Regions from separate parts of the Homo sapiens genome. Here region 2 is linked to region 1. The links come from fine-mapping of genetic effects on gene expression. Tissue or cell type: tibial nerve. Region 1 holds a variant in brackets; the other region holds the start of a gene. All regions are shown on one strand. Distances are between the middles of the regions.

Region 1 (2,760 bases):
CCTTCCACTCTCCAGGGGCTACAAATTCAAATGCCCCAAAGAACCAGACGGGAAATGGAAACACGAGATAAGAGAAATCATAGCCTAAATCTGATAATAAACCACAGCTACCACTCAGCCTCACCACTGAAGCTCTGGGGAGTGGTGGGGACTTTGGCAAACAGGAAAGCTCATGCCCTATCCAAAGGCAGTAGCTGGACTTGGCTCCTGCTGCTGGCTGCCTAGTGGGGAGGAGGATGGCCCAGCGTGGGGGCCAGACTTTTCCATTTTTTCCAGGGAAGAAGAGATCTAGATTTTTGATTTTGAGATAGGGTCTTGCTCTGTCCCCCAGGCTAGAGTGCAGTGGTGCGGTCATGGCTCACTGCACCCTTGAACTCCTGGCTTCAAGCGATCCTAACTGTCTCAGCCTCCTCAGTAGCTGGGACTAGAGGTGTGCGCTACTATGCCTGGCTAATTTTTTTATTTTTAGTAGAGATGGGACTCACTATGTTGCCTGGGGTGGTCTTGAACTCCTGAGCTCAGGTGATCCTCCTTCCTCGGCCTCCCAAAGTGCTAGGATTAGAGGCATGAGCCATTGCACCTGGCTAGATATATTTTTAATATAAAATCTTGTTAATTTAAATGTTGGCAAGCTTCGAAAAGTCTTTTAAAAGCTGTATGAGCCCAACAACCATTATCTGGGGGCAAGTTTGACCCACAGGCTTCAAGTGGTTAACTTCTGGACCCCGCCAGGCCCGCCATCCATGTATTTGAAGTCAGGTGTCACACCCTCCTCCCAGTTAAGCAGTCCCCATGTCTTCACAGCCCGAGCTTCAAAGGCAGGAACTGAGCCTTCTTGAATTTTTTTTTTTTTTGAACCCTAGAGCCTTGCACAGTGCCTGGGCCCTGCTGGGTATCAATACATGTCTGTTAAATTAACAGATGATTTCATTCATGACACATGTAGTTCATTCACCACTTTTGAATGCTCCCTGGTTTGTGTCTATCTTTAAGGTTGGTTCCCAAAAGCCTGGGTGTGTGGAGCAGAGTCCATGCTCTAGACTGGAGGGGGCCGGCTCTCGGTACCCATCCCACACTCCTCCTGGGGAGCCTTTCTGTGGGGTAGAGGCCAGAAAGCCAAATACTGCATTTCCCAGACTCCCTTTCTAAAGCTGTCCTCACAGGGTTAACAAGAATTCTCACAGAATATAGTTATAATTCAGCATTAATCACTGCACTTTGACCCACTTCCTTGTAACTGAAATTCACTGGATACTGACCATTAGCATTCCCATTATTCCTTATAGATTTCTGACTGTAGAATCATTAAGGCTTTTGTTTAAGAATTGCTTAAGATGTTTTTCAGATCTTAAATTCCAGCAAAACAACTCACGCTAGCCAGTTTGAAGGCCCCCCACAGAAGAACGGGATCTGCGTGAGAACACAGCTTCTTCATCTCCCTGTCCCGTGACTTCCCCCTGCACTCTTCCACCAATCAATGATCTCCACACATCAGCCTACTCCAAAACCCTTAA[A/G]AACACTGGCCCCAAACTCCTCCGGGAGACAGATTTGAGGTTTCCTTCCATCTCCTCGTTTGGCGGCCCTACAATTAAATCTCTCTCTCTGCTGAAACCCAGGGTCTATGTGTATAGACTTGCCAGCATCGTGCAATGGACCTATTATGGTTACATTTTGGCTTGGGTTCTGGGTGTGATTTAGGTTCAGCCAATCAGATGGCCTCACACGAGCCAGGGAAAGCAGAAGTGAGGTGAGGAGAGGAGGGGGATAGATGTTGGCTGTTTCAGTGCTAAGCACAGGGCATGGAGTTCTTCCATAATGTTCCTGACTGGCTAGCCAGGCTGCGGGGCAGGGTCTTCATAGCGCTGTCCCAGCAGGCATGGAGTCACTCTGAGGCCAACAGCTGGGGCAGTAACTCCCTGATTCCTGGATTGCAGCTAAGGTGACACCTTCCTGATGCTGATACCCCACCTTCCCAATGGTGTCCTAGGCAGCCGCTCTCCTGGCAGGCCCAGGCTAAGTGGCCATGCTTTTGAGGCACCATTCCTAGAGGCCCAGCCCAGAGTCCCCTCCTCATGCTAGCCCAAGGACTTCGTAAGCACCCGACTCCCTGCACTGCATTTGTTTCTGCTTAAAATAGCCTGAGTGGTCTCTGCTGTTAGGCACTGACTGACCCCTGACTGATACAGTGTAGAAGGACAATTACAGCCCTCGAGGCATCAGGAAATCAGGAAATTAGCTATGATTAGGCCCTGTGAAGTGTGGGACCACAAGGAGAGACTGAGGAGGATGCTAATTAATCTTAGGCCAAGTTTTTTAAATTGCACAGACTCTAGGGCCAGCTATTAAGCCACAATCTAAGACACAAATATGGCTCCTGATAATAGAAGGCTCTCAAAACAAGTAGAAGAACTGTCTTAAGTGAGAAGTGAAGAAAGGCCTCATTAGCAACAAATTAATATTCATTGCAGGGGACAAAAGGAGGCCTCCAGGCTGTGTGTCCTCCAGGCCTTGCTCCTCAGCACTGAGATCAGGCAGGGACACCCTTCCCCAGTTAATCAATGACTTGAAGATGCCCCTGTGGGGAGGCAGAAAGATCACTGGGTTTATAACCACAGCCCAGAGTTCAAATCCCAGCCTGCCCTCTTCCTTAGTAGCTATGCAACTCTAAGGAAGTCACCTTACCTCTCTTGGCCTTGATTTCTTCAGTAGCACAATGAGGACATTTTCTGACCTACAGGATTATTGTGGGTGGGCTGATAA
Region 2 (2,500 bases), 85 kb after region 1:
TAATGGACATCTTAAGATTTTCCCAGTTTAAATCTTCGATATGGTAAATATCATAAATATAAATAAACAAAGCTCTTTGAGGTAAGAGCATACAGGGGTCCCAAGGCTTAAAAGGTTTGAGGACTGATGTTCTATAGCAACATTACATTGACCTTTCCAGAAGGCAAAATGGTAAAGCACATTTTATAGTACCTCTAAAGTACAAAGGGAAAAGATATATTTTAAGCATATGACAGAATGTTCAATTAAAAACATTTTCTCCACACTACATTCAGTGAATATAAAAAGAATGTGGATTCCCCAGGAACAAATTCCCGAGAAGTGAGGGACAGTGCTGTAATTAGAAAAATGATCTGGACTCTAGCCCAGACCCTACCAGTCTCTCTAGACTTTAGTCTTCCCATCTGCAAAGTGAGATATCAGAATAGCCTATTTTCCATTTGCTTCCAATTGTCAATACCATGACTCTAATCAGGGATCCCTAAATGGGGGCCCACAAGCTGTCTCTGGCCTTCAGAGTGACTGGCCAACCCTGTTTTTGAGAAGTACCCCAAGAGGACAATCAGCTGGTGCTTGGTGAGCAGCTTTCCTTTCAGGTGAGGAATTGATTTTCAGTTACAGCCTCAATCCGGCTCACTAGACTCTCCTCTGCAGACATCTGCATTTACAACCTCTGGAATAAAGGGACCCTCAAAACCGGTCCAAATCTCAAGCTCCATAATTCAGCTCCAGAGACAGGGTGTCTGGGTTTCTCACTCACTCTGCTACATGCTGGTTGTTTGACTTTGGGCAAGTTCCTTAACACCTCTGAGCCTCAGTTTCATCATCTGTAAAATGGAACAACGCTGAACTCAAAAGGCTGGTATGAAGCTTAGCGAGGTGTTGCCCAAGAGTACTTACAGAGTTCTTGGTACTGGAAAGCACTTTGTTAAAGGGAGCTATTATTATTAACGCCAAGGCACAGAAAGGGAGTATTTCCTAAACTCCCTTCACCCCCCACACCAATTCCCTTTCCCAGCACCTGACGATTGCACTCCCACGATCAAGCTTGTTTTCATATCAACTCCCAAATCCGACAGTTCCACATCCCAACATTCACAAGACCCTCCTCAGACCTCTACTTCTCCTTCCCCACCCTACATCCCTTCACTGAGCTCCCGGCCAGTACCGGTTTCCTTCACGACCACAGCCGAGCAGAATGGTCACAGCACTGACCACTCCCCCAGGCTCTCCTCCGCGTTCCAGACCACTAAGCCTCCCTATCCCTCATTTCGGAGACCCCCTTGGGTCAGGAAGTGGTGGTCCAGGGGTTCATGGCCTAGGATTCTGCCCAAAGCGCGGTCGGGAGGGATGGGAGAATAACAGCCCGACCTCCCGGAGGGGCCCACAGACACTCACCGTCCATCCCTAGAGGCGGCGGTTCCGGGAGCTCGAACCGGAAGCGGCCTCTACACTGTTTGCAGTTCCCCTGGTTACTGCGGGGCCCCGGACCAATGACGGTGGAGCTCCACTTACTGAGCCCGCCCCCGGGGAGTGACGTCATGCCGGCGCGCTGGAACTCCTCCTCCGAACCCTGGGTCTGACCCACCTCCCCGGGCCCCGGATCGTTGTGCGCAGGCGCGATGGACCAAGGCCCTTGGCGGTGCGTTGCGCATGCGCCCCGGGCGCCGCCGACTGAAGTAGCAATGGACGCGCTGGAGTCGTTGTTGGACGAAGTCGCTCTGGAGGGGCTCGATGGCCTGTGTCTGCCAGCGCTGTGGAGCCGGCTGGAGACGCGAGTGCCGCCCTTCCCGCTGCCTTTGGAACCCTGCACGCAGGAGTTTCTCTGGCGGGCCCTCGCCACGCACCCGGGCATCAGCTTCTATGAGGAGCCTCGGGAGCGACCCGACCTACAGCTCCAGGACCGGTCAGCGGGCGGCCTGGCCTGGCGGGCGGGCGGGCGGGCGCAGGGCCCGGGGGCTGATGGAGCTGGGGGCAGGGCGGGGGAATGGAGTGGGGCTGTGCAAGTACCGGAGGCCTGTTGATTGAGTTGGGGCACGGCGGTAAGGCTAATCTGGGGTCCCTCAGGCCTGGCAGGGCCCTGGAGTCCGATGGAGTTGGCGGGGGGAGGGGGAGAATCTAGTGATGTCCCGTTTTGTCCCTGTGTGTGTTTTGGGGTAATGGCGAACAGGATTGGGGATATTCTTCAGGCTTAAAAGAATGTTTCCTTTACATTGGAGGATAGGATTAGAGCAGGAAAGACACTTTAGAGCCAGACTGGAGACTCCTGAGATCAACAGACCCTCATGGTATATTCATTCGGTGCAGATAGCCTAGGGCAACTCGAGATCTGCGTATCAGGACAATTAGCGATAATGCTAAAAGCTGACATTTATCAGGGACTTCATGGGTGAGGTGCTGTTCTTTTTTTTCTTTTTTGAGATAGAGTCTCTCTCTGTGGCCCAGGCTGGAGTGCAGTGGCGCGATCTTGGCTCACTGCAACCTCCGTCCGCCTCCCAGG

Evidence for each region. PIP is the estimated chance that this variant, and not a neighbour inherited with it, causes the effect.
Region 2: it holds the start of KATNIP, and the variant in region 1 is fine-mapped to the expression of KATNIP in tibial nerve (GTEx, PIP 0.92).

What each region holds. Positions count from the first base shown.
Region 1 is chr16:27,633,698-27,636,457 of GRCh38, reverse strand. All of the region lies in intron 5 of KATNIP (katanin interacting protein), which reads right to left. Among named protein-coding and RNA genes, the nearest start is that of KATNIP, 85 kb to the right of the region's middle. RefSeq lists an enhancer at 2,119-2,760. The variant A/G (reference allele first, on the strand shown) is at 1,515.
Region 2 is chr16:27,549,076-27,551,575 of GRCh38, reverse strand. It overlaps KATNIP (katanin interacting protein), which reads right to left and starts at 1,432. Exons shown (of 28, transcript NM_015202.5): 1 at 1,399-1,432. The coding sequence starts at 1,405. GTF3C1 (general transcription factor IIIC subunit 1) reads left to right here and starts at 1,663. Exons shown (of 37, transcript NM_001520.4): 1 at 1,663-1,906. The coding sequence starts at 1,686. RefSeq lists enhancers at 1,567-1,676, 1,687-1,766.